Homo sapiens: one gene and its partners. The protein of the gene in region 3 interacts with the protein of the main gene of each other region in a biochemical or structural test. Each region holds a gene or a part of one and is shown on either strand. Other genes may lie near its edges.

Region 1 (6,839 bases), on a different chromosome or scaffold from region 3:
ATTTACCTCCCTTTCTTGAAGTCAGAGGCTCATCTTTAACTTGTGATTCAGTGAGGACAGCCTTCCAGGCTGGGAATGGTTCCCTAGGGACATCTGGCTGCAGCTGAAATTGCCCATCTCTCATTGCTCCTAACAAGGTCCACATGATGTAAATTTCAGACTGTCCCAGTAGGACTGTGCTCAGCATAGCTAATGAAGGATTTCAGCCTTTGGCAAAAAAAATGGAAGGGTTATTTAAAACCAAACTGTGTCATTTAAGAGTGATGGCTTTAATGAGCTCCCAGGGAACTCATAAAAGGGCCCAGAGAATAAAACAAGGAGGCCTAAAATAGTCAGAACCTGTAAGCAAGGACCCCTAACTTATTGCAGTGCAGCACTCTGCCTGTTTTATTTTAAGGACCCGTTTTTGTTCTCTTCCTTGCTGTAACCTAAGGATACAAGAATTTTGATTATATATATTTTTTAAAAAACAGGTTAGGTTGCACCCTTGCTGATCCTCAAAAAGCTTTACTGGAATGGATACCATCCCCAAAATGATGAAGTTTAAAGTTTTGGTTTGGCATTTAGGGACCTACAGGATCTGGCCTCAACCCTCCTTTTCAATTACTTGCTCCTTGCTCTCTGTCGCACATCCTGGGCTCTAGCTATACTGGGCCAACTCTTGGTAGCTTTGTACCTTTGCTGTTTCTTCCCCCCTCTTCATGGAAGGCCTTTCCTACTTCCATCCCAGCCACTCCACCCTCCATTCTGTTAACAGAACTCAAATTCCTTCCCTGGTGGAAATAAACAGCATCTCCCTACTGTGGCACTTGGTTGTCCTAATTTCACTGGACCTGGGGCAATCTGTAACTGTCCATGTCTACCTCCCCACAAGACCCTAACCAGTCAGAGGGAAGAGGCTGGCTATATAAGGTGTATCTCCTAATGCCCAGCCTAGAACCTTGGATGTAGGAGGCTCTCTGTAATTGTTGGTTGTGAAGTAAATAGCATGCTCTTTTTTTTTTTTTTTTTTTTTTTGAGATGGAGTCTCACTCTGTTGCCCAGGCTGGAGTGCAATGGCGCTATCTCAGCTCACTGCAACCTGCGCCTCCTGGGTTCAAGTGATTCTCCTGCCTCAGCCTCCCAAGTAGCTCGGATTATAGGCATGTGCCACCAAGCCTGGCTAATTTTGTATTTTTAGTAGAGACGGGGTTTGTCTATGTTGGTCAGACTGGTCTCGAACTCCCGACCTCCCGACTTCAGGCAATCTGCCCGCCTCCGCCTCCCAAAGTGCTGGGATTACAGGCGTGAGCCACAGCGCTTGGCCATGCCCAGCTAATTTTTTGTATTTTTAGTAGAGACGGGATTCCACCATGTTGGCCAGGCTGGTCTCGAACTCCTGACCTCAGGTGATCCACCTGCTTCGGCCTCCTACAGTGCTGGGATTACAGGCGTGAGCCACCTCGCCTGGCCATTTTTTTTTTAAATTCTAGTTTTATTAATTCAAAATATGCTGTACATTCACACTCAAAAGATACAACAGAGTGAAAAGTCACCTTCTCTGTTCTCTAGCCACCCCATTCCCTTCTATGGAAAGAACCAATTATTATCAGCTTTTTGTGAATCCTTCTGGAGACATGCAATATATATAGTATACTCTTCTCTCTCCTTTTAAAAATAAACGGGGTTCCTCTTTAGTTTTGCAGTTTGCTGTTTCACCTGACTATGCACACATACACATATTTAAAAAATTTACTCAACCAACTGACTATTGATAACATTTAGTTTACTTTCATTATTTTGTTATTAAAAACAATGTTGGGCCTGGAGGGACACGTTTTACATACATTGAATCAGGCCACTAGGTAAGATGTGTCTAAAAACTACAGATGATGTATCTAAAAACTGTAGACTGCTCCACAAAAGTAAAATTTCTTTATTAAATCAGCCTGTTATATATAACAGTTTTTAACTCCATTCCTTAAATACAATTGGGGTCAAATAAGAATTACTTTCTATAAGAATAGGGCTAGAATCATTAGATTGTTAACACTGTGAGATATCTTTGATGATTTTCAACCCAAGGGATGATCATGAATTTGGTAAACACACACACACACAAACTTAAAATGAGGTCTAACCTTAAATTTTTAATAGAACTTGTCAAAAAGTTTGTTAGCAAAAGTGTGGGTGAAAAGAGATTCCCGGCCAGGCGCAGTGGCTTACTCCTGTAATCCCAATACTTTGGGAGGCCAAGGCGGGCGAATCACTTGAGGTCAGGAGTTCAAGACCAGTCTGGCCAATATGGTGAAACCTTGTCTCTACCAAAAATACAAAAATTAGCTAGGCGTGGTGGTGCACGCCTGTAGTCCCAGCTACTTGGGAGGCTGAGGCACGAGAATCACTTAACTTGGGAGGCGGAAGTTGCACTGAGCCGAGATCACGCCACTGCACTCCAGCCTGGGCTACAGAGCGAGACTCTGTCTCCAGAAAAAAAGAAAAGAAATTCCCACATATTGCTCATAAATGTAAAATTGGACATTATGGAGAAAAATTAGACAATGTTGATCAAGATTAATGGTGCCAACACCCATTGACCTAGCAATTCTACCTCTAGAAATTCTCCCTACATAAATACTTATACATGTAAACATGAAAATACAAGAATTTAGGCTTGGTGTGGTGACTCACGCCTGTAATCCCAGCACTTTGGGAAGGCAAGTCAGGAGGATCACTTGAGCCCAGGAGTTCCAGACCAGCATGGCCAACATAGTGAGACCTTGACTCTACAAAAAATTTTTTAAAAAATTAGCCGGGGGTGGCATGCATCTTTAGTCCTAACTACTGGGGAGGCTGAGGTGGGAGGATTGCGGGGTGGGAGGCTGCAGGGAGCTATGATTGCACCACTGCACTCCAGCCTGGGCGACAGAGCAAGACCCTGTCTCAAACAAATAAAAAAATTAAAGCATAACCTGTAGGAGATAGCTCAATGAATGCTGATGTTTAGAAGAAAGATTTGGGTTATCTCCGATTATTTTAGAAAGGAGATGCATTACAGAGATCAGGGAACAGTCTCTGAGAAGGATCCCCTGGGTTTTATGGCCATACCTATTGCTTTTAGCTGTATAACCTTGAGCAAGTTACTTACCTGAGCCTCAGTTTCTTTATCGGTAATCTGCATTATAGCTGTGTTGTGAAGGTTCAGTGGGATGGTGCCTGCAAAACCTCCCCCGCCTCGAACCTGACACATAATAGGCACTAAGCGTAGCCGTAATTATTATTTAATAAATATGTTGTTCTATGTGGTGATGGCAGATTAAGGGGCTACTTTGGTGATATAATCTGCCCTCCTGGGGTAGAGTTGAGGGCTTTGGAGTTGGGTGAATTCCTCTCTAGCACTCACTAGACTTCGAGCACATCATTCCCTAACCTCTATGGCCTCACTTTTCTCATCTGTAAAGTGGCCAGAATAAATTCCAAGTCTTGAGAGTTTGCTCTGAAACTTAAACGTATATTACTCATAAGAGTTTAATACACAATTATTTTATTTCCTGCCAATCTAATGGCGAAGACATGGAATAACCCATCAAACAGCCCAGTAACCCCAGGAAACCAGAGGGACGGAAACCAGGGCGATGGGCGAGTCAGTCATGGCCAGTGCGCCGTGTTTCGAAGGGGACGGCCATGGAGCGGTGGGTGGTCGCTCAGCTCCCCAATCGCTCTCCGACACCCGGCTGGGGAGACAGGACCTCCCTGGAGGCCGCAGCAGCTTGATTGTCACCCGGGCAACCCCACCTTCCGGTTCCCTCTACAACCCCTTGCCCCGCTTCCGGTTCCGGCGTCGTGCGTCATCGCTGGGCGACTGATTTCGAGTTTCCGGTCAGGTTAGGCCGGGGGGGTGCGGTCCTGGTCGGAAGGAGGTGGAGAGTCGGGGGTCACCAGGCCTATCCTTGGCGCCACAGTCGGCCACCGGGGCTCGCCGCCGTCATGGAGAGCGGAGGGCGGCCCTCGCTGTGCCAGTTCATCCTCCTGGGCACCACCTCTGTGGTCACCGCCGCCCTGTACTCCGTGTACCGGCAGAAGGCCCGGGTCTCCCAAGAGCTCAAGGTCAGTGCTGGAGCCGGCCTGGCCTCAGCCGGGTCATCTCTGTCCCAGGTGCTGGGGAGCCCATGATTCACCTTGGCCGCCCCACCGTCGGAAACTGTCCAAAAAAGGAAACAGCCTCTGAAGGGTGTCATCCAGCCAGTAGATGGAGGAGCGAGGGGCAGGATTCGGGCTCGGGATAACGGCTGCTCCGCTCCTTTTCTCCCAAGTCCCTCTTATGACTCAGAATGAATCTTGACTTCATTACTTTACTCGAAAAATATTTATTGAACACCTGCGATGCTCCAGGCAGTGAGTCGAACAGATGAAAGTCCATCCCCTCGTGGAGATACCATTTTAGTACGACTAGACAGCAAACATGTAAATCAGGCGGTGTAACAGATGGTGAGCAATGCTTTAGAGTAAGGTAGGGGAGAGAGGACATGGAATGCTGGAGAAAGGGGGATCTCCTATCTTAAATAAGGTGACATTTGAGCAGAGCCTAGGAGGAGATGAGGGGAGTCATGCAGATATCTAGCGGGAGATGGAAGGAACAGCAAGTGCAGACATCCATTTACTGAACCACTCCACTCCTTGCTTTACAGACGCTTCCTTTTTATATTACAACTATTTTTATAAATGGCGCTTTTTTCTGAACTGTGCTTTACGGTTTACACAACACATTTGCATTTATTTTTATTTTTTATTTTTTCGAGATGGAGTCTTGCTGTGTCGCCCAGGCTGGAGTGCAGTGGCGGGATCTGGGCTCACTGCAGCCCCTGCCTCCCGGGTTCAAGTGATTCTCCTGCTTCAGCCTCCCGAGTAGCTGGGATTACCACGCCCAGCTAACTTTTTTGTATTTTAGTAGACACAGGGTTTCACCATGTTGGCCAGGCTGGTCTCCAGCTCCTGACGTCGGGTGATCTCCCCGCCTCGGCTCTCCGAAGCGTTGGGATGTAAAGGCGTGAGCCACTGCGCCCAGCCACATTTTCATCTTGATTTTATTTTTTTCTTAACAATAATTTTTTTTCCTTTCTTTCCTCTCCTTTTCTTTTCTTTTTCTTTTTCTTTTTTTTTTTGAGACGGAGTCTCGCTCTGTTGCCCAGGCTGGAGTGCAATGGCACGATCTTGGCTCACTGCAACCTCTGCCTCCCGCGTTCAAGTGATTTTCCTGCCTCAGCCTCCGGAGTAGCTGGGATTACAGGTACCTGCCACCACGCCTGGCTAATTTTTGTATTTTTAGTAGAGATGGGGTTTTGCCATGTTGGCCAGGCTGGTCTCCAACTCCTGACTTCAGGTGATCCCTCTGTCTCAGCCTCCCAAAGTGCTGGGATTACAGGCGTGAGCCACTGCGCCTGGCCCACAATAATTTTTTGAAGTAAATAAAATGACAGTTACCACCACATTGCAAATCAGAAAATTGAGATTTGGAGGAAAGGCCATACAGCTAGTCAGCTTGAAACTTAAATTTAGGTCTTTTGATTCCAAGGGTAGGATTTTAATCTGATTGACATTGCTTTATTGTGACTATCTGACTGGTCCAGAGAGATGGACCTCTTTAGGTCAGAGACAGGGTCTTATTCATCCATTCTCTTTCCTCTAGCTTCTAACACAGTACTTGGCAAGTGGTAGATGCTCAGTAAATGTTTGTGGGTTCTTTTTGGCTGAAGTTTCACAATACAAGAGCTAAGGGCCTAACCTAATTTGATGTTTATATGAAAGATGGATTCCTAAACCTGACTAACTTAATTATCAGATTGTTTTCAGTAAGGGTTTAGAAACTAATGTGTGGGCCAGGCTACTCCAGCCTGGGTGACAAGAGCAGGACTCCATCTCAGAAAAAAAAGAAACCAATGTGTGAACTCCAGTCCCTGCCATGAAGGGAGTTTTGGAATCTGGAAAGAACCAAGTTATGAGGCAATTGGATTTGCTGTGCAGTGGCGTTATAGTGAGATTCCAGCTGCCCTGTATTTCTCCTGATTAAATAATCAAGTTAATCCTGAAGTGATTAGCTCTGTGTATCTGATACTTCACTTTCTGACTCCAAACCACTTTGGCCTCAAGTTGGCTGGAGGAGGGCTTCTTTGAAGCAGTGAACTCTTTAGGTCTCATCTTTGGGTGACCTTAAAACCTTTGCCAAACAGTTCCTAAATGAGGATGAAATAGCCCCTTCCTGGAAAAAAAGTTGGGACTGTTAATATTTTAGATTCTATTTTCTATTTCCTTCCTCTCTTTCTCCCTCCCTTCCTTCCTTTTCTTTCTCTTTGGCCTTCCTTCCTGTCCTTCATTTCTTTCTTCTTTCTTTTTTTCTTTTTCCTCTTCTTTTTTTTTTTTTTTTTTTTTTTTGAGACATGGTCTTACTCTGTTGCCCAGGCTGGAGTGCAGTGGCACAAACATAGCTCATTGCAGCCTCGAGCTCCCAGGCCCATGCCAGTCTCCTGCCTCAGCCTCCTAAGTAGCTAGGACTACAGGTGCACACCACCACCTCCAGCTAATTTTTTATTTTTCATAGAGATGGGGTCTTGCATGTTGCTCATGCTAGTTTTGCACTGCTGGCCTCAAGCAGCTATCCCACTTTGGACTCCCAAAGTGCTGGGATTACAGGTGTGAGCTACCATGCCTGTCCTAGATTCTATTTTCTTGATCAGATGACAAAACTTCCAGAGAGGGGCTTGTGTCCTATCCTGTGTATCTCTCATAGTGAGGAGAATGCAAATTTATTGCGTGCCTCCTATGTGCCAGCCCCCGGGCTGGATTCTTTCACACCTTGAAGTTCA
Region 2 (7,358 bases), on a different chromosome or scaffold from region 3:
AAAGATTTATTTGTTTGTTTGTTTAGGACAAAGTCTCTACACATAATCTACTTGCTTCATATATACATACTTATGCATATTATGTATGTACATACATGCTCTCAGGGCTCACATGAAAAAACAGCCATTCAGGTGATGTGATTTATCTCATATGCTTACTTTAGAGTCAACAGGGTGTTGACTCCACTATACAATACTGGCATGGAGAACACATAAGTCAAAGTAGACAGGACCCAGCCGTACCATTGGCTAGGGCACAAATATATTCACATATGTGGAGAATGATGTACGTAGAAAGGTCTTCATTGCACAATGCTCTTTAATAAAGATCTGGAAAAAAAAAACACCTAAATGTTCAAAAGGATAGGGTAGATGAAATAATGGTACATTATAAAATGGAAGATTATGCAGCCATAAAAATAAGGAAATACCTTAAATAATAACAGAACAACTTTTAAGGTAAGTGAACAAATAAGGTACATAATCACTATGCATAGTATGTACCATTTACATAGAAAAAGGGAAGAAAAATAAAATATATATAGTAATTTATTTGTTCTTACATGTGTAAAATTTTTCTGAAAAATATACCAGAAACTGGTAGCACTGGTTGCTTCCTAGGCAGAAAATGACTGAGTATCCTTTTGTACCTTTTGAATTTTGAACCACGTGAATGAATGTGTTACCTATGAACAAAATGACAAGTTTAGATCAGCAAGACAGCAGTTTGAGATGAAATGGGATTACACCCTTAGTAGGAAAAACTTTTTAAAGCAGGTGGTACTTCTAAGAGCAAATACCTGCACATGGAATGTTGAAACTATAAGGAACTCTCCTTAAGAGATCCATCTATTCCAAACTTCTCATTTTATAGATCTGTAAACTGAGACCTTAAAAATTCAGTGACTTGCATAAGGTCACACAGCAGAAGAGATGGGATTAGATGCTAGATATTCCAATATCAAGTTTAGACTATTAAAAATTCAGTGACTTGTGTAAGGTCACACAGCAGAAGAGATGGGATTAGATGTCAGATATTCCAGTATCAACTTTAGACTATTATCACACCATCTTCTCATTTTCTGGGGGCAAAACAGAACCAAGTAAGTTTGGGCTACATTACGAGTTGTCATGTTTTTGTTTTTGTTTTTTTGAGATGGAGTCTTGCTCTGTCGCTCAGGCTGGAGTGCAGTGGTGTAATCTCAGCTCATTGCAATCTCTGACCCCCGGGGTTCAAGCAATTCTCCCTGCCTTAGCCTCCCGAGTAGCTGGGTTTACAGGCGCCTCCCACCGCGCCCGGTTAATTTTTGTATTTTTTTTTTTTTTTTTTAGTAGAGACGGGGTTTCACCATCTTGGCCAGGCTGGTCTTGAACTCCTGACCTCGTGATCCACCCACCTCAGCCTCCCAAAGTGCTGGGATTACAGGTGTGAGCCACCACGCCCGGCCGAGTTGTCATGTTTTATCTAAATTTTAGAGTCTAATGTATAAATTAACCTTAAGCCCTGAAACTACTAATTTCTTGTTTGGATCACTATACGGCTACACTTAAAAATATGCTGTGCATACCTCTATCATTGCATGTATACAATATGATAGATGCATGATATGACAGACACACAATATGATACACGTATTTTTTTCTATCCTAACACATCTGAATTTACTGAAATAACTAAAATGTCTTAAGTTACTTTTTTAAATATACACATGCATAGCACAAGCGTGTTGCCAAAAATATGAATACAGGTTTACAATTCCTTAACTAAAACCCAAGGGTTGGATGTGTTTTAGAAATAAGAATTTCATACAATTTTTAAGTGTTACAGGGTATATAAACCATTATATAACACATACCAGGGGCCAAGGGCAGCACCCCATAATCAAACATATTAATATAGTTTCAGCAAAACACATGGGATAAAGACTATATACAGCTTCTCAATAGTTCAGGTCATATTTTGCTACCAAATGAATTTTGTTGCCAAGCTTAAGAAGTTTTTGGTTTTCACCGCTTTCTGAATGTTAGATTGAGATGTGGGATTACAGACTGTACTCATAGAGTGCTTCTAGAAAGCAGTCAGTCACTTCAACTCTCATTTTTTTTTTATGAGACTAAAAAAGAAATCATAGCAAGTAGCTTTTATATCCCAGGTTTGGGCCAAAGACTTGTATTGTGGTTAAGGAATCTAACTTAGTAGAAGGTGCACGAGCTGACATCGTGAGTGGCTAAAATGAGAGAAAAAAAGAGAAAATCCTAATCATACAGAAGCACTGAACTACTGCAGCTGTTCGTTAGTTATTAATTTAATAAAAGCTTCCTCCCTTTAAATCATGTGAGTTTATAACTGGAAATAGGTCAATAAAATTTCTGTCCCACACTGCTGACAAGCGATGGACGCAATTAGCTTTAATCCCACTGGAAGGTACTGCACTCTCTCTGGGACCAGGATATGTAGAAAAAAGCATTTCAAATATATAGGAATAACCAGAAATGTATACAGTATTCTCAACTTGGGACCGTTACTCTATAATATAAACGAAAGGGGTTTTCTAGTCAATCTCTGCTGATCTCCTGTACCAAAGTTCTTCCCTTTATAAGTCTTGTACTACCTTTTACAAGAGGAAAAAGCTCTAGAGCGAAAACACAGAACACACTAAAATCCCTTCCTTTCTCTTTACAACTCAAGCCCCGCCTCCATTTTGTTTCTGTTACTAATTTTTCTTCTGAAAAAATACCAAATTTACACTGAAAGACTAAAATTCAACTTTGCAGACAACGTTTTAAAAAATACAATTCAGTTTGGTGATGTTGTTTTGCAGTCTTACAATTTTAGCTACATTTTAACTGAACCAATTGTTTTGTTCAATTTATGAGTTAATACTCAGCAAGTTTGTTTTTTACAAATAGTGTATTCCATTCTAAAAATGGAAGTAGCAGTGGTGAACAAGAAAACAACCCTCTGAGTTTTGTCTATTTCAGGAGGAAGTACTACTTTCTCCAATTTTAATCACAATTCATAAAAAAGAAAAACCTAACTAGCTAGATCTTAAATATACAAATACATTAACAATCTAGTAAAGCAACAGAAAAAGGTAAACAAACTAACCAGCCTATTTTTGTCTGGAGAAACCCCAACAAACTGCTGGATTCCTTGGCCATTTGCATTCAGAAGTACCAAAAACTAAAATCCTTTTTACTAAATAATTTCTTCTACACGAGACTTGTTTCCTCCACACCACCCTATCCAAATTGTCAGCATTATTCCAGAATATAATCATTTAGTTTGAGACCACTAAAAAACCCCGCAGTCCAAAATACCAATTGTGGTTTTTCTGTAAAGAAATGGTCAGAAACTACAAATTGTTATCCTAGGACACAGAACCAATCGACCAAAAGGACTTCTGGAATATGCTGCCCCCAAGATTTAGAATGCACAGGCAGAAATAGCATACGCGGTCACGATGTCCCTTAAGCCACATGACCTTCCTACGAAAGCAAAGGCTTAAACTTATCAAATGAGAACTCCCCCTTTCTCTGAAGTTAAAACAAGGCAGGGCAGCTGGAATTAGAGCAGCAGGGACAGATCGGCTGTTGACTAGTCAGAACGGGTCGTGGAATGCAAAGTCCCTGCGCTTTCGCTGCTCCCCTTACCGTGAGAAGATCTGGGAGGGAGGAAAGGAGGAGAAACACCCCAGAATCCTGGTAGAAAAGCCCCTGGCCTCGAAGATGGGCTCTAGGGAGACAGGGAGGGGCAGCTCCGTGTGTGATGACCCTTTGTGAACATGCACTCTGTGGCAGCTTCAGCTCCACCGAGGCTTTGGGAGAGCGGACTACGGATGCCCGGCGCGGCCCAGCTGTGAAGGCCGCGCCGGCGGAGAGGGTCCATGGCACCCCCGCCGGCTTCGGAAGCCCTTCCCTCTCCCACCTCCGCGGGTCACCCCAGGAACCAGCGGCTCCCGACCACGCTCGCGCGGACCACGGAACAGCGACGCGCAAGCAGGTCTCTTTCGTCAGCGTAATCCCTCCGCAGAAAGCCGCGCACTAGTTTTAATCACGCCCCACCCCCTGGCCGCTGGCGCCACCTCCGCCACTCGGGCGCTTTCCAGCAGCTTCCAGAAACGTCGCCTCCCCAAACCCAGCCACTCACACATGGCGGGCTCAGCAGCCACCGGCCCCGCCCCTCCTCGTCGCCGCAGTCGCAACTGCGTCTGCGGCCACAGGGCGGACAGCCACGCCTCTGCGGAGGGCGACCGGAAGTGCTCACGTCTTCACCTTCCCCGCCACGCCACCGTCCTTTCAGGCCCAGCGTGCAGCAGGAAGGAGGACTCTTTTGCCGCGGACTCAAGCCGGAAGCCGCCTTCCTAGTGGAGACGCGAGTGGGGGAGGAGCAGTCCGAGGGGAACGTGGGTTGAACGTTGCAACTAGGGTGGAGATCAAGCTGGAACAGGAGTTCCGATCGACCCGGTACCAAGAAGGGGAGTGCCCGCGGCAGGTAAGGGAGAAGAGGGAGGGGTTTCTTTCCGCTCTCGAAATTGGGAAAAGAGACAGAGCTGGGATGACCTATGGGGTAGTCGGCGCGCTGAAAGGATGGGCTGGGCTGGGACGGGGTTCAAGTGGGAAAGGTTGATGATTAAGGTATAGAGTTGGACTTACAGATCCGTTTGGGCGCAGAGAGGTGAACGCTGAAGAGAAACCAGAGTTTGTTTTCGTTTTCCAAGGAGCGTGGAGATGGGCAGGGTTAACGGACCCTGCGCCTCCTTCGGCTTCTTAGTTTGGGTGTTGAAACTCACCTCCTTTGGTCCTGTTCGTCTCTGATTCAAGACAGTTGGGTTTGGTACCTGACAGGGCTGGGTGCAGAAAGCTGACCCTGTTCCTCGGCTTCCAGGTCGGTTGTGGCCTCGCTTTTGACAGTTCACGTGCCGAGCCTACTCGCTCTCGGAGGGCGAGCTCAAATGGGTGGGTTTAAGGCCCCCTCTTCGAACAGCTGTTTCCCTGGGTTTCTCCATTTTGCACACAGGAGTGTGAATTAAGTTTAATTGAATACTTTTTGCGATTCCCAGGGCCACCTTGACACGTTCATTGTGCTATCTAACTGGGTTCATGCTGGGCTAATAATTCACATTAAGGCTTCTGGAGTATAAGTGGTTCACAGAAGTATGAAAAGGGGATGTTAGAAGAAAGATGCTGGGGGTGAAGTAGAGTTGAGGAAGACAGAACTGGAAAGCTAGGTTGGTTTCACAGTACAATGAGCTTTAGGTCATAATACTACCTTTAGGTTATATTGGGCTGTTTGGACGGAGTTTGCTGTAATCAGGCTAGAGTAAATAGAGAATTTTAAACTAAGCATTGACAGGCTCAGACTTGTAGAGGCATCATTTTGACAGTGATATGGAAGGGAAAGAGGTAGAGATTTGAGACCTTTCCAAAGAACTGTCCACAGAATTTGGTGACTTACTGTGCGAAGAGGGAAATAAAGAATAGGGAACAACTCAAGACTTTCTAGTCTGTGTGTTTGGAAGGATGGAGACGCCCACATTTAAGTGAGATATGGGAAGGAGGAGCAGATTGTTTTTGAAGGGAGGAAGAGCAGTTACTTAGGGTCAAATTAAGTTGTAAAATCCCCCCCGGGATTTTGTATGTAAGTCAAAGTGAATTGTATTTGGAAGAAGAACTGGGGAGCCCACCTCTGGTATTTTTTTTATGTCCCTCATATGGACAAATAAACCTCTGGTATTAAATGAATTTTCTTTTGGGGGATTCTATATATTCGGGATTTCAACCACCAACCTATCTGGTTTTTCCCGCTGAAATGTTGGGTGATGGAATCAGGAGAGCAGATTTGGAGACTCTTTATATTTTATAATTGAGAGAGACAAAGAGAAAACCGTTTGATTTGAAAAAGTTTTCTAGGTTCCCTCAGGTAGATGGAAATTTTCATCAAAAACAGTTTATTCAAGGTACATAGCCTACTAGTTTCCCATTTGAGAGTACCGCAGAATGATACGACGTGTACTGCTTCTCTACGCAGAATGAAGTATAAAATTAGCACCAAATAGTAACTTTAATTTGTCAGGTGCTAAACTTTTTACATGCTTTATCTCATTTAATTCTTAGAAGAAACTAATTTTACAAGTAAGTGTCTGGACCAACATCTGCAGGTACAAAGCCTGAAAAGCGTAAGTTTGACTCCTACATAGTTCTCTTTTGTAAGTAGATTATAAATAGAACCAGCCAAAGGTAATAAGTTGTCTGTGCCTAAAAAGAAAGAAAAAAGTTAGCATCAGTAGTTCTCACCAGAAGGGGTGATTTTGCTTACCAGGGGACATTTGGCAAGTCAGGAAACTTTTGGCTGTTGGATCTAGAGGGTAAAGGTCAGTGACGCTGCTAAACATCGTCAGTGCATAGAACAGCCTTCACAAACAATTATTTGGTCAAAGATATTTGTAGTGCTGCAGTTGAGAAATTTCTGTCTTATGGTTATTTCTTCAGGAATAGGAAATTAAGATTCGCCGATACTTTCTTTAAAAAGCAGTTTTATTTTTGAAATTATTCCTTGGCTTGAAAGGTTTGTGAAGTTTATATAGCCGAACCAGAATAGCGTAATTAGATTTTAAAGTGAATTGTGAGCCATCGATTCCCAGGAGATGGGTGTCATAGAATCATGGATTCTTGGATTTGGGAAAGACTTATGCCTAGAATTATTTTACAACATTTCTGCTAAGTGGTAATTCTCCTCTGCCCTAAAGGTCTCCTGTATTTGATTTTCCTATCATTGTGAACCCACAATTAAAATGCTCTTAATTATTTTTTGCTTACACTGAGCTCCGGTCTCTTGTAATTTTTACTCTGTTAAATGTGGTTCTGCACCATAGGACTGCACTCAAAACAAGCTTGCCACATATGTAATTTGTACTAGGACAGTGTTTATATTTTTGTTCAGATAACAAAATAAGTTAAATGTGGTGTAAATTAGATCATTTACAAATAATAATTTGTTAGCAGCTTTTAATAAGTAGTATTTTTCCCAACTGGTGAAGTATTAATGTTGGTAGTTGAAAACAATAGGAATGTATGGAATATATGGTTCACTGGTTCTTTTGTTCCTGTCAAATAGTGGCACAATGGATCTGGGGTTTTTCTCAGTATAATGCTGGCATATTTGTTTCAAATTGTACATAGACTCTAAAAAGTTAGGCTTTCAAATTCTGGTCAATATAGTTTGCTTTAAATAGTAGCTGCCTCTACTACAAGTTTTATTTAATTTGTTGACAAATGAGTCTGCTATGAAAACCGGTCCTGTTGCCAGTCACTACCCTCTGTTCACAAATTTGCTGGGTTTATAAATATAGGTATCA
Region 3 (7,097 bases):
CAAAGTGCTGAGATTACAGCCGTGAACCACCACTCCCGGCCCCCCAACCCCCCCCTTTTTTTTTTAAATCACATACTAAATGTGTCATTTAGAACATATGCTTCAAGAGGTCAGGGTTTATGCTTCCTTTACTGCTATACTGCTGACCTGGAACAACATCCAGCACACAGTAGTAATCAATGTGTTTTTGAATGAATGAGTGGACACCTTACCCAGGATAATAATTCATGCTTATTGATAAAGGCAGACAAACCAGGGTTATAAGTTAGAACCCAGAGGAAGCCTAGGGGTGGGAGGATTCAGGGTATCACAACTGTATCTGAGAATGAGGAGGTTGTAGGAGGAGGCCTTTCGGATAGCACCCCCTAGTTCTGCCCCTCATATCTGCTTCCTTGGTCTCTCCTGATTACTTGCTGTTTCTTTTCTTTTTTTGGAGCATCTCACAGATACGTTTATTCATACCACAAAGTAAACACTATTCAGGTATGTAGTGATGTTCCACGTTCCTGTCTAATATAGCTGGCTTCAATTTATAGGCAGTACACATTGAGACATTTAATCTCACATGTACTCCAAGTAAAGCTGGAGTACCATGAGCAGGCGCAGGAGTTCTCAAAGCTTTACTTGTTTTAAAAATTTTCATTTATTGGCCAAGCGTGGTGGCTCATGCGTGTAATCCCAGCACTTTGGGAGGCTGAGGCGAGTGGATCACGAGGTCAGGAGATCGAGACCATCCTGGCTAACACACGGTGAAACCCTGTCTCTACTAAAAATACAAAAAAATTAGCTGGACATGGTGGTGGGTGCCTGTAATCCCAGCTACTCAGGAGGCTGAGGCAGGAGAATGACATGAACCTTGGAGGCGGAGCTTGCAGTGAGCCCAGATGGCGCCACTGTGCTCCAGCCTGGGCGACTGAGCGAGACTCCGTCTCAAAAAAAAAAAATTCTTTCATTTATTTAGTTACTTTTAGAGATAGAGCCTCCCGCTGTTGCCCAGGCTGGAGTGCAGTGGCAGTCATAGCTTACTGCAGCTTTGAACTCCTGGGCTCAAATGATCCTCCTGCCTCAGCCTCTCCAGTAGCTGGGACTGACTACAGGCACGTGCCACCACACCCAGCTAATTTTTATTTTTATTTTTATTTTTTTGAGACAGGGTTTTACTCTGTCACCCAGGCTAGAGTGCAGTGGTGAGATCATGGCTCACTGTAGCCTCTGTCTCCGGGGCTCAATCAATCCTCCCACCTCAGCCTCCCCAGTGGCTGGGATTACTGGTGCACACCACCATACCCTGCTAATTGTATTTATTTTTAGTAGAGATGGGATTTTGCCATGTTGCCCAGACTGGTCTTGAGCTGCTGGGCTCAAGCGATCTTCCCATCACAGCTTCCCAATGTGCTGGGATTACAGGTGTGAGCCACTGTACCTGGCCAGCTTTACTTCTTTTACCAGCACTCCTGATTTTATAAATAGTGAGGCTTATCAACCCCATTTCTACCCAAATCTTCTGGTAGACTTGAGTATAGTAGGGCTTCATAGGTAGCAGCCCTGTCCCTGTCCTATTATGATGGTAGCTGTTGTGATGTGGCGATCTCTGATCTAGAAACCCCTGAGGGGCCATTGTGGCCTGCCCAGTCTCCCGGCCACGGTTGAAACCAGACGTGCAGTGGGGCTGACCCCTGTGCCCCACCCCAGAGTCATGCCAGCGTGGGTGGTGGGGCATTCTCTGGGATGAATGATCTGGATCCCATAGCCATCTGTGTCCTGTTTGAGGAATGGGACCCTCAAACAGAGAACAGCCAAGATGCTCAAGCAGGTGTGTGCTTGGGCCAGACTCTGCAGCCTTTGGTTTGGGACTTGACTGCCATTCACTGAAGGGGCCCAGGAAATGGGCAGCTCACATGGTGTTGCTGGGTGTCCAGCTGCGGCAGTTTAGCAGAGGAGGACTTGTAATGAGATGGTAGCTTCTTATAGGCTAAGACATGATTTTTCTGTTCTTTTACTACCTCCTGCACCTTCTAGAACTGTTCCTTCTCTGATGCTGTTTTCCTTTCTTCCAGTGATTTATCTCTAGGGTCTCCATAGCAGGGGAGGTAGGGTCAGACTCCTGAGATGGCTGATGTCCTACCCTGCCCCCAACCAGGGGCCCCAGGAGACTCCTTTTTCTTACTGCAACTTTGGCCTCCTCAGTCTGCAGATCTCCAGGGGAGCCCACCAGCCTAGTCAACATGGCCTCGGAAGACATTGCCAAGCTGGCAGAGACACTTGCCAAGACTCAGGTGGCCGGGGGACAGCTGAGTTTCAAAGGCAAGAGCCTCAAACTCAACACTGCAGAAGATGGTGAGTTTCTGGAAGTTGTGCACTGGTGTGTCCAGGGGAGGAGAGGGAGTGTACTGAACTCTTACTGGTTGTCAGGCTCTTTCTGCTACATTGTCTCCATTATTTGTCCCAGCAGCTCTGTGAGGTATCATTGGGCCTATTCTAACAATGAGGCTCAGAGATCATTTGCCCAGGAGCAAGCTCCCCTGCACTTTCCATGTTTGTATTGGGCATCCCTTTGTGCCCTGCCCTTTCTTTCTCAGGAGGGGATGATAGGTAATGAGGGGCCACAGTTAGTGCCAGTCCCAAGATACAGCCTCTGACTCTGACTTAATATCCGGTGTTGTCCCCACCCTTGCCCTTAACCCCCATGATCCCAGGCAGGCCTGGGAATAGCTGCAGCTTTCCCCAGAGCTGAGGCTCTGGTGGAGCTGCATTAAAACAACCTGGGCCCTCTTGGGAGATGCTGGTTCATGCAACCAGATGTACCTGGGAGAGGGATGGCTGTCTGTGTGTATACAGGTATTGCAACCACAGAAAACTAGGAACCAGAGAGCAGACCCTGTCTTTTCATCCCTTGTCAAGGCTTGGCTGCCACTGACCAACCCTGAATCACCTGGCACCTGCAAGTGAAGGCACCTGCATCAAGTGAGGCCTCCTGGGATTCTGGCCCAACCAGGGGAACTGGTCTGGACATGCCTGGTTGTCATGTTGTGTAGGCAGCCTTGTTCTCCTCTCCAGGTCGGAGGCTGCTTGAGTCCTTGGGTAGCTGGGAGCGTGCTGATGCATGTTCCTAACATCTCCATAAGGTCTAACGTTTATAGACTTCCTCCCTGTGCATTTATCACTTTTTTTTTTTGAGATGGAGTCTCTGTCACCCAGGCTAGAGTGCAGTGGCACGATCTCAGCTCACTGCAAACCTCTGCCTCACGGGTTCGAGCAGTTCTCCTGCCTCAGCCTCCTGAGTAGCTGGGATTACAGGCGCCCACCACCACACCCGGCTAATTTTTGTATTTTTAGTAGAGATAGGGTTTTGCCATATTGGTCAGGATGCTCTCGAACTCCTCATCTCAGGTGATCTGCCCACCTTGGCCTCCCAAAGTGTTCGGATTACAGGCGTGAGCCACTGTGCCCGGCTTTTTTTTTTTTTTTTGAGATGAGTCTCACTCTGCCACCCAGGCTGGAGTGTAGTGGTGCGATGTTGGCTCATTGCAACTTCTGTCTCCCAGGTTCAAGCGATTCTCCTGCCTCAGCCTCCCAAATAGCTGGGACTGCAGGCTCACACCATCACGCCTGGCTAATTTTTTTTTTTGAGACATAGTCTTGCTCTGTTGCCCAGGCTGGAGTGTGGTGGTGCAATCTCAGCTCACTTTAACCTCTGCCTGGGTTCAGGCAATTCTCATGCCTCAGCCTCCTGGGTAGCTGGGACTACAGGTGTGTACAACCATGCCCAGCTAATTTTCTTTTCTTTTTGTTTTTTTTTTGAGATGGAGTCGTGCTCTGTCACCCAGGCTGGAGTGCAGTGGTGCAATCTCGGCTCACTGTAAGCTCTGCCTCCCTGGTTCACGCCATTCTCCTGCCTCAGCCTCCTGAGTAGCTAGGACTATAAGCACCCACCACCATGCTCCGCTAATTTTTTGTATTTTAGTAGGGATGGGGTTTTACCATGTTGGACAGGCTGGTCTAGAACTCCTGACCTCAGGTGATTCGCCCGCCTCAGCCCCCAAAGTACTGGGATAACAGGCGTGAGCCACTGTGTCTGGCCTTCAGCCTATTTTTGTGTTTGTATTTTTATTATTATTATTTTTTTTGAGACGGAGTCTCGCTCTGTTACCCAGGCTGGAGTGCACTGGCATGATGTTGGCTCACTGCAGGCTCCGCCTCCTGGGTTCATGTCATTCTCCCACCTCATCCTCCTGAGTAGCTGGGACTACAGGCGCCCGCCACCACGCCCGGCTAATTTTTTTGTATTTTTAGTAGAGACGGGGTTTCACCGTGTTAGTTAGCCAAGATGGTCTCGATCTCCTGACCTCATGATCCTCTCACCTCGGCCTCCCAAAGTGTTGGGATTACAGGCGTGAGCCACCGTGCCCGGCCCCTTATTTTTGTATTTTTAGTAGAGACGGGGTTTTGCCATGTTGGCCAGGCTGGTTTTGAATTCTTGACCTCAGGTGATCCGCCCACTTTGACCTCGTTTATCACTTTTGATGCTTGCGTCACCCTTGTGGGAGATAGATTGGAATGTTGCTGTTTTATAAATGAGAAAAAGGAATTTAGGAGACTTTAAGTAACTTGACCAAGGTCACACATTTGATAAATAGCAGAGCTAGGATTTTCACAGAGGTTCAGTGAAATCCCTATTCCTGTGCTTCTAATTAGACATTGAGCTCCGTTTAGGAAACAGAGATTTGATGGCAAATGCCATTTATTGAACACCGTGTCAGATAAGGGTATTAAGTGCCAGATAAATAGTATCTCAGTTTATCTTCACAAAATCCTTTGAGATAGATTGCATTTCCATTTTGCAGATTGGAAAACTGAGGTTTAGGGAGGTGGTATGACATGCCTAAGGGCACAGCTTTAATGAGTAGAGCTGGGATTAGAACTCAAGTTTGGGCCAGGTGCGGTGGCTCACGCCTGTAATCCCAGCACTTTGGGAGGCCGAGGTGGGCAGATCACCTGAGGTCAGGAATTCCAGACCAGCCTGGCCAACATGGAGAAACCCTGTCTTTACTACAAATACAAAAATTAGCCGGGCGTGGTGGTGGACACCTGTAATCCCAGCTACTCTCCGGAGGCTGAGGCAGGAGAATCGCTTGAACCCGGGAGGCGGAGGTTGCAGTGAGCCGAGATGGCACCACTGTACTCCAGCCTCGGTGACAGAACGAGACTATCTCAAAAAAAAAAAAAAAAAACTCAAGTTTGGCTGGCTCTGAAATCCATCCAGTTAACTTCTTTACTCTCCCAGCACAGGCTGAATGTGGTGTCTCCCATTTTGTAAGTCCCCAGGGGTGCCCAGCTTACCCAGCTCCTAAGAAGCAGCAAATCTGGAATAGGAATGATATACCCAGGTAACTAAGTGAAGGCAAAATGTGAATATACTCTATGAAAACAAGTGAAAAGGCTCTGGGAAGTAAGGCAGGGAGAGGTCTCACTTTTACTTTAAGAGCACCCAGGAAGTCTTTTCATCCCTTGCCAAGGCTTGGCTGGCACTGACCAACCCTGAATCCCCTGGCATCTGGAAGTGAAGGTACCCGCATCAGTGAGCCATCCTTGGGTTCTGGCCCAACCAGGGAAACTTGGACCCACCTTGGACAACTTCTTAGGGAGCCCCTGCTAGGTTATAAGTCCTTTCTCAAGACCCTTCTTGACCAGAAGGTCAAGTTCAAACTTTATCTCCCATACCCATCTCTATCTCTTCCCTCCCACATGTCACCCTACTCCATCCTGTACCAGCCAGACTCAACTTTTTGTTTCATGTAAGTTTTGGTTTTGTTCAGATTATACAATTAATGCAGGTTTATTATAGAATACAGAAACATTCAAAGAACAGGGAAAAAATATATCCTCACTTTCGGCCGGGCGCGGTGGCTCACGCCTGTAATCCCAGCAGTTTGGGAGGCCGAGGCGGGCGGATCACGAGGTCAGGAGATCGAGACCATCCTGGCTAAAACGGTGAAACCCCGTCTCTACTAAAAACTACAAAAAATTAGCCGGGCGTAGTGGCGGGCGCCTGTAGTCCCAGCTACTTGGGAGGCTGAGGCAGGAGAATGGCGTGAACCCGGGAGGCGGAGCTTGCAGTGAGCCGAGATCCCGCCACTGCACTCCAGCCTGGGCAACAGAGCGAGACTCCGTCTCAAAAAAAAAAAAAAAAAAAAAAAATCCTCACTTTCATATAACCCCAGGGATATAACTACTATTACTTTCAGGGCATTTTATTTCTAACACAGTCTTTTTTTTTTTTTTTCTGAGAAACAGTCTCGCTCTGTAGCCCAGGCTGGAGTGCAGTGGCAAGATCTCGCTCACTGCTACCTCCGCCTCCTGGGTCCCAGTTCAAGCAATTATGCCTCAGCCTTCCGAGCAGCTGGGATTACAGGCATGCGCTACCATGCCCAACTAATTTTTGTATTTTTAGTAGAGACGGGGTTTACCATGTTGGCCAGGCTGTTCTTGAACTCCTGAACTCCTGACCTCACGATCCGCCCGCCTTGGCCTCCCAAAGTGCTGGGATTACAGGCGTGAGCCACCGCGCCCAGCCTAGTCTTTTTTTTTTTCCTGAACATAGCTGAGTTCATTTTGTTTTGTTTGTTTTTTGAAACGGAGTTTCGCTCTTGTTGCCCAGGGATTAGTGCAATGCCACGATCTCGGCTCACTGCAACCTCTGCCTCCCAGGTTCAAGCAATTCTCCTGTCTCAGCCTCCCTAATAGCTGGGATTACAGGCATCCACCACCACACCCGGCTAATTTTTGTATTTTTAGTTAGAGACAGGGTTTCATCATATTGGACAGGCTGGTCTCAAACTCTTGACCTCAGGTGATCCTCAGGCCTCAGCCTCCCAAAGTGCTGGGATTACAGGTGTGAGCCACTACTCCCAGCCCATTTTGTTTTTAATTGGGATTATATTATAGATCTTTTAAAAGCTGCTATATAACCTGATATATTGAGAACATTTTACTTCAAATAGTTAAAAACACACAATCACCCATTATCCTACCAGCTAGAGAGAACTGCTATAGCATTTGGTTTCTATGTTTCTAGACCTTGTTTTATGCACATGTGT

The links. Proteins that work in one complex are often made in the same cells at the same time.
Region 1: of the proteins of RANGAP1 (region 3) and MUL1, one has a biochemical effect on the other in vitro, tested with the Homo sapiens proteins (one study listed by BioGRID).
Region 2: of the proteins of RANGAP1 (region 3) and USPL1, one has a biochemical effect on the other in vitro, tested with the Homo sapiens proteins (2 studies listed by BioGRID).

The regions. Positions count from the first base shown.
Region 1 is NC_000001.11:20,505,152-20,511,990, reverse strand, and holds the start of MUL1 (mitochondrial ubiquitin ligase activator of NFKB 1), read left to right. Parts: upstream 1-3,839; 5' UTR 3,840-3,966; coding exon 3,967-4,086; exon of another isoform or gene 4,087-4,464; coding exon of another isoform or gene 4,465-4,467; intron 4,468-6,839. UniProt on the Homo sapiens protein: Exhibits weak E3 ubiquitin-protein ligase activity. E3 ubiquitin ligases accept ubiquitin from an E2 ubiquitin-conjugating enzyme in the form of a thioester and then directly transfer the ubiquitin to targeted substrates.
Region 2 is NC_000013.11:30,613,562-30,620,919, forward strand, and holds the start of USPL1 (SUMO-specific isopeptidase USPL1), read left to right. Parts: upstream 1-4,358; 5' UTR 4,359-4,495; exon of another isoform or gene 4,496-6,179; intron 6,180-7,358. UniProt on the Homo sapiens protein: SUMO-specific isopeptidase involved in protein desumoylation. Specifically binds SUMO proteins with a higher affinity for SUMO2 and SUMO3 which it cleaves more efficiently. Also able to process full-length SUMO proteins to their mature forms.
Region 3 is NC_000022.11:41,276,173-41,283,269, reverse strand, and holds part of RANGAP1 (ran GTPase-activating protein 1), read left to right. Parts: exon of another isoform or gene 1-483; intron 484-1,626; exon of another isoform or gene 1,627-1,728; coding exon of another isoform or gene 1,729-1,813; intron 1,814-2,057; exon of another isoform or gene 2,058-2,187; coding exon of another isoform or gene 2,188-2,225; coding exon 2,226-2,337; intron 2,338-5,252; exon of another isoform or gene 5,253-5,374; coding exon of another isoform or gene 5,375-5,387; intron 5,388-7,097. UniProt on the Homo sapiens protein: GTPase activator for RAN. Converts cytoplasmic GTP-bound RAN to GDP-bound RAN, which is essential for RAN-mediated nuclear import and export. Mediates dissociation of cargo from nuclear export complexes containing XPO1, RAN and RANBP2 after nuclear export.